2 separate regions of the Homo sapiens genome follow, and region 2 is linked to region 1. Evidence: fine-mapped expression QTL. A gene starts in region 1. The other region holds a variant in brackets. All regions are shown on one strand. Distances are between the middles of the regions.

Evidence for each region. PIP is the estimated chance that this variant, and not a neighbour inherited with it, causes the effect.
Region 2: its variant is the best candidate, but not a certain one, in a credible set for the expression of RNF2 in monocytes after LPS (Quach 2016, PIP 0.68).

What each region holds. Positions count from the first base shown.
Region 1 is chr1:185,042,891-185,048,418 of GRCh38, forward strand. It overlaps RNF2 (ring finger protein 2), which reads left to right and starts at 2,668. Exons shown (of 7, transcript NM_007212.4): 1 at 2,668-2,759. RefSeq lists a silencer at 2,298-2,557.
Region 2 is chr1:185,095,108-185,100,107 of GRCh38, forward strand. RNF2 (ring finger protein 2) reads left to right here. Exons shown (of 7, transcript NM_007212.4): 5 at 2,965-3,237; 6 at 4,684-4,855. Among named protein-coding and RNA genes, the nearest start is that of RNF2, 52 kb to the left of the region's middle. The variant A/G (reference allele first, on the strand shown) is at 2,595.

The DNA.
Region 1 (5,528 bases):
CTCTTAGAATTTTCCCATGGCATCTAGGAACCTAGTGGTGAGGTCAGGGTGGCTGACGTTAGCATTGTTCACCAATGTCCCCACTTCTCTTTCTGAACTCAGTTCAAGGACTCAGTCCCTTTGCAGATGTGTGGGGCTGTACAACCAGTTCTGGGCAATGAAATGTGATCAGTGCTCTCTTTTCCAAGCTAAGGCTACGAAAAATTCACGGGGATTCTTTAGCCATTTTCTTCCTCTGCTGCAGAGAATAAGTTTCTGTGTTCCAGGGTGGTACAGCTACAAGATGGTGGTGTCTCTATCAATCTGGTTCCTGGAGTGACCAGAACAGAGTGAGTTGGATCCACATGAAGCATGAAGCATAACCAAACAATAACTTTTGTTGTGTTAAGGCATGTAGATTTTGGAGATGTTTGTTACTATACCATAACATAACCTTTCCTGATTAATATAGTCAGAGAAGATCCAGTGCCAAGTTTCTGAGTAAGAGATAAAATAGATAAAATGAGTTCCATTAATTTGTCAGTAGTGTTTTTCATATTAAGGATGTTAGCCTGAGGTCTAGCTTTTTAATCACATTTAATCCAGATATCCCATAAGTTTTCCGTTTTTCCACTAATTCTCCTGTGAGTCTTTTTTAAGCACTATATTTAACTTTCATCCATAAAGTTCCTGCGCTTTCTACAAATCATCACTTTTCTCAACATCAATTGAATTGCTTAATCTAACCACACATCATGATTTTCAAAGGCATTTTAATTAGAGCAAAAGTTCTAAATTATGAACACCTGTCTTCCTTTAATTGAACTACACATGCACTCGTCATGAAGGAAGAAGGGAGATGCTTCTGCAACTGCACTGTTTCTAGAAAGTGGACTTTCACAAGAAGGGAGAAGCAGAGCTTCCCTGATTATTTTGATTTTGTTGTTGTTGTTGTTTTGTTTTGTTTTGAGACGCAGTCTCGCCGAGACACCCAGGCTGGAGTGTCATGGCGCGATCTCGGCTCACTGCAACCTCTGCTTCCCAGGTTCAAGCGATTCTCCTGCCTCAGCCTCCCGAGTAGCTGGGACTGCAGGCGCGTGCCACGACACCTGGCTAACTTTTTTTTGTATTTTTAGTAAAGACAGTTTCACCATATTGGCCAGGCTGATCTCGAACTCCTGATCTCAAGTGATCCGGTGGCCTTGGGCTCCCAAAGTGCTGAGATTACAGGCGTGAGCTACCACACCCAGCCTTTTTTTCTCCCCCCACATTGGAGGAAGAGTTTAACCTTGAAGGGCTTGTAGAGTCAGATAACTGTCACTTGTTATTTAAAGTTATAGATAGTAGGCAAAAGCTTTCAAGCCACTGAAAAAGAATAATGCTTGTTTTCTTTGATGGATTGTTAGGTAGCATATATAATGTGCTGTATTTAACACCTGTCCTTTTTCTTTCCACCCATCCAAGGCGTCAAAGGCCATCTTAAATCCCGGCTCCTCAGGAAATCATCCCCAAACACACCAGCTGGAATTGATATTTTTCTTTTCCAAATTCCTATGTAAATTCATGTCATTTATTTGGAATTGCTTATAGAGAGTTTCAGAGCGTTAAAGAACTGGAAAGGACCTAGGATTCAATACAATTCTCTCATCTCGCAGACGAAGAAAATGAAGTGCAGAGGAGCTACGCAATCTACGTAAGTCACATAGACACACATTGGAGGCTATGAACCTAGTTTGCCCAATTCCCACTGCAGTCCATTGGTTTATGCCTCTATGCCTTCAGATTTACGGTCTGGTATTGCTGGTTATCTTCTCAAGAGAACATGACATCTCAACAATAGTACATATAGAGATCAGGGAACTTTCAATTCTTCGTTACTTCTTCAGCTCATAATTTATATGCATTAAATGTCGGATAATTTACTGGAGACTAACTGGCTGTGTTTTAGGTAATGATTACATCTATTAATCTATTACTTCGTAAATCCTCAAGTTCAGAAGGTAACACTGGAAGGGGCCAAGGAGGTAGGAATAAAGCAGCAGCAAGGTAAATAGTAAGAGCTGATGACCACAATCAGAATGTTAAGCTAAGTTTAGAGTGGAAGGTCATTTTCCCAGGAGCAATTACACTTGCAGTTTTATCCTGCAAGGATGAAAAGTGTATGTTTGTTGTACGAGAGCGGAAGGGTGCCGAAGTTCATGTGAAGTTCTGCAAACCAAAGCCTGATGAGGATTTCCGCCGGGTGGGACAGGTTTAAGAGGACGAACTCATGAGAAAGAAGTCTGAGCCCAAACCCCAGAAGCCGGCCAGGAAGGTGTAAAGGGTGGGCCGAAGCCAGGGCAGAAGAACCCAAGCAGAAGGTTGAGCACGAGGTGGCTGCGCCGTCATCCGGGCGTTGCCCGGGGGCTACGTCGGACCGCGGTGGGCGCCGGGGGGGCGTGGCCGGCCAGCCCAGGGCGGGGCGGTGGCGCGGGTTCTCCAGGCCAACACGCGGCGGCGCACCCTCCCTCGCGCCGCGGGCCTCCCCGCGCCGTGCACGTCCTCGTCCCGCGCCTCCGCCCCTCGCTCGCTCGCTCCTTCCCGCCCTCCCCGCAGCGCCGGCCGAGCCGGCTTCCCCTCAGTCTCTCATGAATATTGAGCGGCCCCTGTTGTATTTCCCGAGCTCCATTGCGGAAGCTGAGGCTCGCCATATTGTGCGGCGGCGCCGGCGTCCGCGGCAGCTGATACCAGAGTCTTGCTCCGGCCGCGGCCAGCGGAGCCCTGGGCTGGGGCAGGAGCCGGTGAGTGGGGCGGGCGGGGAGGCGAAGGACGCGGAAGCAGCGGGCCGGGACACGCGTCTACTCGGCAGCGTTGCAGGCGACTGACGGGGGCCCCGGAGTGTGGGGGGGGTGTGTGTCCGCGGGGGTGTGAAGGGACATGGCGCCGCCGCCGCCCCCGGCCGCTCTCGCGGCGGAGACGGCGGGTGAAGCGGGTTCTCATTGTTCCCGTGTCTTCGAGGGTCGTGGGAGGGAAGGGAGCTGGTTTGCGGAGGACCCAGTCAGCGAAGCGCCGGGATTCCTTCCTTCGCCGCGAGCCTTTCGCTGCCCTTTCCTCTGCGCGGAGGCCGGCGCTGCGGCGCGGTCCCCTCGCCTCCGGGGGCGGGGGCCCCAGCCTCTCTGCAGCCCTACTCCGGAGGCGGACGGAGTGGAATGCGAGTTTTTTCTCTGGGCTTTCGCCTCGCAGCTAGGGATGTGTGTCTGCATCGTGGGGGTGGGGTAGGGGGCACTTTGTGCAGATATCGCTCCTTCCTTCTGGGGGGTCGGAGTCGGGGTTCCAGTGTAGAGGAGCTCCTCGACCTCGGGGTTCCTCGGGGAGACCCCTTCAGCTTCACACATTCCTGGAGTGCCGCCTCCTGCTCTGGAGTATCTGTTGCTGCTTTCTAAAACCGTGAGCTTACCCAGGAGGAGTCGTGGGGGGAGGGGGTGTCTTGGTTAGTTTCTGCGGGAAGATTCGCGTTTTGAACCGTGTCGTTTACGCTGAGATGCTAGTACCCACTTTTGCCGGGAGCCCACGTCCTGCTGGTCAGAATCGTTTACCTTCTACAGAAGTCTCCTTCTTGCTTTCAGAGATGGTGTTAGTAAAAATTGATCTCAAACTTTGAGGTTCATTCCAGTTATTTGCCCGCTAAGATCAATTATAGACTCATCTATTTGAAGCCCCTTTGGGTATCTTTTTCGAGGCTGTCGGAAGTTTTAGAGAATGTAACTTTACATTGTAAAATGATTTGAAGATGTCAGGTTTCTTTGAAGTGCCGTGAAAAGGATATACATATGCACTCAGTATTTTAGTAATACGCTGTTTTTCAATTAAAAAAATTAAGGCATGGTTTCAGTGTTCTAAACCGAGGATATGTTTAAAACGAATGTACGAGCGATTTGCATTACATAATCTACTTTTGGTAATTCCAAGATGATCAGCTGGAATACTTAGTCTAATTGGTAGCTAATCTATCTGTTTTGTATTAAGTGCAGTTGTTGAATATTCTAATAACTGAGGTGGGTGTGAGAGTTTGCTTCTTATAGTGAAATTTGATCCTTGGATTTATAAAGTATTTAAATAGCAGCAATATGACTCTTGGTTATTCCCTTTTTCCCCTGAAATTTCTACTTTTCACAATCAACAAGTATCTTTAAAAATCTTGATTGTACTCTTAAACTACTTTTTAGCAAAATAATAGGTAGTTATAGGTGACTCCTTTTTCTAGGGGTAGCACAGCAAATATGGTCCCTCACTTTTTGTAAGGATTGTAGTTATTTTCCTCAGGTATCCTTGTGGCATCCACATTTGAGGTTAATTATAGTAGAGGCAGATTTACGAAGAAAAATTGCCCGAGTCAGGCCAATCCGTTTGAGTATTTGAAAAATAAGCTAGTTGTCCTAAAGTGTGTTGCATAGAAAAATTTCCAGTTACAATCACTAACATAATGTAGACCATGCAGACTTTCAAAATACTGGGAATTTGGAGTTTTTCTCTGCCTGTGTGAAGCTCCCAGGTTTGAATGGATAGAAATATAGACCAGGTCAGCAAACATGTTTGGAATTTTATTAGTGACCTACAGTTTGTGGTGTCACGTCTGTGTCTCTAATCTGATTTATTCATGATTTGTGTTTATATTATGCAGACTTTGGAGTAAAGGTGATATATATGCCTAATGAATAATATATAACCAGATGTTTCAGTGACAGTTTCATTTCTATACATTAGCAAAGAAGCATAATTTCTTCCAGCAAGAGAAATGAGTTAATATTAAAACGCACTTTATTAAAATTATGGCAGTGTTTCTAGTATGACTTAAAGCGCTTCATAATTTTGAAATGACTCATTAAATTCTGGATAAACTAAAAATCCATCACAGTTTGCAGCTTTTAAAAGAAAAATAAGAGATTATGTACTCTGCGCACGTACACATCTACAATTGGTTTTTAATTCGTGTTATTGCACACACTGTAGAAGACATTGTCATCAGACAATGGTTAATTTCTCGATTGATTCATTTATTTGACATCTAAGCTGTCATAGTAACTTAGTGTTTATTTGCATTTAATACTGAGTAGGTGCCCATATAATTTGGGGTACAAAGGTATAATAGCATTTACACAGTCCATTCCTTAAGGGTCCAGATATCCTGACTGTTTGCCTACTGGTCTTCTACCCTTTCTACCTAATGTGTCTACTGGGTCTTCTGGTATTTCTTGGGGGAAGCGCAGTTTGATTGGTCTTACATAAATATTTTGACTGTGGTCATGGGACTCTTGGCATTTAAGTAGAAGCTAGTGTTAGTGTGTTGCCAGGCAGGAGCTAGGTGATGAGTCCCTGACTATAGGTGCTAAGAGCGTAGGTGTGACCCATTATCCAGTTTTATGTTGTGTGGAGCAACTCCGGTAGAATTGGCCATGTTCTTAATTCTCCTTTGCTTTACGGTTTTTAGACAGCTGAGGCAGAGTGGTATGATTAGGCTTAGTTATGTATCTTGTTGGATGCTCAAGGAGCTATATACATTACTAAAAATT
Region 2 (5,000 bases), 52 kb after region 1:
CCAAAGTATAATGTACTAAATGTTAAATGTATTTATTTTTAGAAGAATTTTACATTCCTAAGCGTTGGAAGGACTTTAATGGTTGTTCAGTTTAGCCTTTTACTAAAAGCAAGACTCTCCTTGTAAATATTCTTTTGGTTTTGCTTGTACATTTCTAGTGGTGGGGCTGTATGATAGGCACTCCTTTCTTTTGTTGGCAACTTTATTACAGCTTCCTTACTGTTCTTCAGACTCACCAAGCATGCTTCTGCCTCAGAGCCTTTGTACTTACACTACTCTATTTCAGGAACCTTCTTCCAAATAATCCACATGGCACACTACCTCACTTTCTTAGCAGGTATCTGCTTAAGTTCTCATCTTCCATTCTAGGACTCTGTAATTCCTTACCCTCCCTGCCTCATTTTTTTCCCATAGCACGTATCACTCTCTCATGTGTTACCTGCTACACTAGAATTATGACCCCTAAGAGGGAAGAGACTATGTCAGTATCATTGATTCTTATTAACACCATTATTTAGAACCATGCTTGGCTTAAAGTAGTAGCTGCTCAGTAAATATTTATCTATGTGTGAATTTTTAAGTTCTTCCTTTATATTGAATTAAAATTAGTCTCTTGTGTGCAGCAGTCTGGGTTTGTCTTATGTTGAAATACTTATGTTGACTTCTACATACATTTCAGATTCTACTTCTGTGTTTACAAATATTTTTATGTAGGTATATGTTCGTATATGTCCCTCTAAAGGCTTAATATTCACATTCCTCATTTCTTTTTTGTTCCTCATATGACACTCAAGATTGGTGTCATTCTTAAAATGCTACCATCAGGACAGTATGTAGTATTATAGACGTGATTTGATAAATGTAGGATATAATAGACTTAATGTTCTTTATATGAACATATTCTTTAAACGCTGCCTGCAGTTACATTAATATAGCTCTGTCACATCAATCCTTTTTTGGAAAGGTGTGGGATAAAAATAAATATATTGAGTCTTAATAAACCTGTTAGGTCACTGTAATTTATGGTCAAATAACTTTTCATTTGCTTTAGTTGTGGATTTTAGAATATATTTTAGTCTTTATGTTGTGCTATCAATTTTTTGTCCCATTATTTTAGCCCGTTCATACCTTTTTTTCAAAAATTGTGGTAAAAGACATATAACAGAATTTTCCATCTTAACCATTTGTAAGTGTAGAGTTCAGTAGTGTTAAGTACATTCTTTTTTTTCTTTTAAACGATTGGCTCCTCAAAGCTGAACACTCACAATGTTGTGCAGCCAATCTACAGAACTCTTTTCATCTTATAAAATTGAAACCCTGTATCCATTAAGCACTAACTCCTCATTTCTCCCTCCCCCCAGTTCCCGGTAACTGTCATTCTACTTTGTTTTATGAATTTGACTTCTTTAGATACCTCACATAAGTGAAATCGTGCTGTATTTGTACTTTTGGGGTTTTTTTTTTGTTGTTGTTATTTACTGTTATTTATTTCTCTTTTTACTTGACTGTAGGCCACCAAGTTACGTATTTGTACTTTTGTGCCTGGTTTATATTACTTAAATGACCTCAGCATGTCTATTCATGTTGTATGTGGCAGGATTTCCTTCCTTTTTAGGACTGAATAATCCATTGTGTGTGCTTATGTATTTTTGAATCATAGTTTGTTATTTAACATACTAGTCATACTCTCTTGGTTTTGCAATGATCTATGAATTTTATAAGCAGGATTTTTTTTTTTTTTTTTTTAAAGCATGAGTTCTTGAGCATCTTTCCTAACCATTGGACTGTTATTTCTTTGTTCTGGCAGTAAACATAATGACAATATTCTTACAAGTGCAAGGCATTCTTTCATATTTCTTTTTCATTATATATTCCTTTTTTCTTATCTATACAGGTAGGGAGACAGGCAGTGTGGTAGGAAGAATGTGGTCTGGTTCACATCCTAGCTCTAGTTCTGGCACTTATTAGCTGTATAACTGGAGGCAAATTATTTAATCTTGTACCTGAGTTTTCTTTGCTTTTCTCAACTAGAAAATGACATTAATGGTAACTGCCTTGACAGGTTATTTTGAAGAGTAAACAAGATTGTATGTATAAAGTGCCTTGCCCGGTAATTAGCTTTAGTATCTGAGCTTGTTAGAGAGCAGCTTCTGTGTCCACGTTGGTTATTTAGATACCATCGCATTTTCCTCAGTCATTTTGTATCGCCTTAGCTGACTTGGCGGAAGGTCAGCAGGGAGGAAGTACTTACTATTCTTCTTAACTTTTGTTTCCTTAAGAATTTCTTTAAAGAGGCATAAATATCTTCCCTAAGAACTTTTACATTTTCATATTTGAATCATGCCTTTCTTCAGACCTGTAACCCCATGAGAGAAAATGATCAGAATATAAAGATTTGTCAATTAATTCTTATAGTCTTTTGTTTAATAAAGAAAATTATTTTTAAGAGATAGCGTCTTACTCTGGCCCAGGCCAGAGTACAGTGGAGCCATCCTAGTTTACTGCGCCCTTCAACTCCTGGGCTCAAGCCATCCTCCTGTCTCAGCCTCCTGAGTAGCTGAGATGATAGGTGCACCACCACGCCCAGCTAATTA[A/G]AATTTTTTGTTGTTGGTAGAGACAGGGTCTCACTTTGTTGCCCAAGCTGGTCTCAAATTCCTGGCCTCAAGCTCCTCCCATCTTGGCCTCTCAATGTGTTGGGTTTACAGGTGTGAACCACCGTGCCTGGCCAGTAAAATTATTAAGTGAATAGAAACATTCGTTAAATTATTTAAATGTTTGCCTGTGAGCAAGAGAGATTTTTTAGACCTTTCAGGAACATGTGGGAAACAATATCATCCAACTCAGAGTAAATTCAGTTACCAGTATTTTTTGGAATTCTAAAGTTCAGTAGCAAACATGCTTCAGATTTGTTGCTTTAAAGGCCTAAAAGTAAATTTTATGCATCCTTTTTTCCCCCTTGACTAGACTGCAGCGAGGCAAGAAACAACAGATTGAAAATGGTAGTGGAGCAGAAGATAATGGTGACAGTTCACACTGCAGTAATGCATCCACACATAGCAATCAGGAAGCAGGCCCTAGTAACAAACGGACCAAAACATCTGATGATTCTGGGCTAGAGCTTGATAATAACAATGCAGCAATGGCAATTGATCCAGTAATGGATGGTGCTAGTGAAATTGAATTAGTATTCAGGCCTCATCCCACACTTATGGAAAAAGATGACAGTGCACAGACGAGGTAAGTGTGTGGATTAGTTTCAGATTATCTAAATTCAGAATGTTTAATTTGGAGGTAAAAGGCAGTCTTGTATAAGAAGTAGGAGCAATATTTGTCATCCCATTGATTGCAGGGGTTCAGTTACTAGCTGCCTAGATTGTTGTTTTCTTCCTTCCTCCCTCATGTGCTTTCCACCCAAAATTGCACATCTGAAAGGAATGACTCTCCTTGGTAGAGAAGGTAAAGGGGCCTATTCAAATTTCTCAGCAATGATACTAGAGTACCAATAGGCTCTAAAACTCATGCTGGCAAGAATGGCTACGTTACCACTGTATCTCCAGCACACTGCTTGCTGTTGAGTACAGATAAGCATCAAATATTTATTGAATGAGGGATTTAATGATATATTATGTTTTAAAAATCCTCAAATTAACTTTTTTTTTTTTTGAGATGGAGCCTTGCTCTGTCGCCAGGCTGGAGTGCAGTGGCGCGATCTCGGCTCACTGCAGCCTCCGCCTCCTGGGTTCAAGCGATTCTCCTGCCTCAGCCTCCCGAGTAGCTGGGACTACAGGCTCATGCCACCAAGCCCAGCTAATTTTTGTATTTTTAGTAGGGACAGGGTTTCACCATGTTGGCCAGGATGGTCTCGATCTCTTGACCTCGTGATCCGCCTGCCTTGGCCTCCCAAAGTGCTGGGATTATAGGCCCAAGCCACTGTGCCCGGCCTCTTTTTTTTTTTTTTTTTGAGATGGGAGTCTTGCTCTGTCTCCCAGGCTGGAGTACAGTGGCACAATCTTGGCTGACTGCAACCTTTGCCTCCCGAGTTCAAGCGATTCTCCTGCCTCAGCCTCCCAAGTAGCTGGGATTACACTCACCACAACACCTGGCTAATTTTTGTATTTTTAGTAGAAATGGGGTTTCACCATGTTGGCCAGGCTGGTCTCGAACTCCTGACCTCAAGTGATCCACCTGCCTCAGCCTCCCAAAATGTTGGGATTACAGGCGTGAGCCACCACACCCGGCCCAAATGAACATTTCTATGGTTAGTCTTAAAAGACATTTTAATTCTTAGACAATAAGAAATTTGCTTCTATTCTGTTTCTGTTGCTGCTATAGCCAGCAGATTCTGGTCATTAGGGTTTGGGGGGTATGTTCCTTTTTTTCCCCTTAGTACTTTGTGTATTTCTGTTTGATTTTTGTCACTGTGTATCTCATTTTATAGAAGGTAAGGTAGGTAAAGCTTTTGTGACCTGACAGTAAGATATTGAGTATTTACTTTCCCCTCTTCTGTACCTATCAATAAGAAATTTAGATTGTAGAGCAGTAAATTTCTGATATTATTTTGTCAATAATTGAGACATTGCCATTTTACTTAGTTTTTAAGAAATGTATTAGTTCCATAATTTAAGTACATTTTTCTCATTGGCATATTCTAGAAATGAAATTTTTAATGATTTATTCTTCTAGATACATAAAGACTTCTGGTAACGCCACTGTTGATCACTTATCCAAGTATCTGGCTGTGAGGTTAGCTTTAGAAGAACTTCGAAGCAAAGGTGAATCAAACCAGATGAACCTTGATACAGCCAGTGAGAAGCAGTATACCATTTATATAGCAACAGCCAGTGGCCAGTTCACTGTGAGTATTTAAAATAATAGACTGTTGAAACTGGGAGCACACTGACCAACTAACTGAGTGGCAAGTGGTGGGGTAGAATCTAATAAATAATGTAAAAAACCGTAACAGTGTTAAGTGACAAGTAGTTATTCCTAAGATTTGAAAA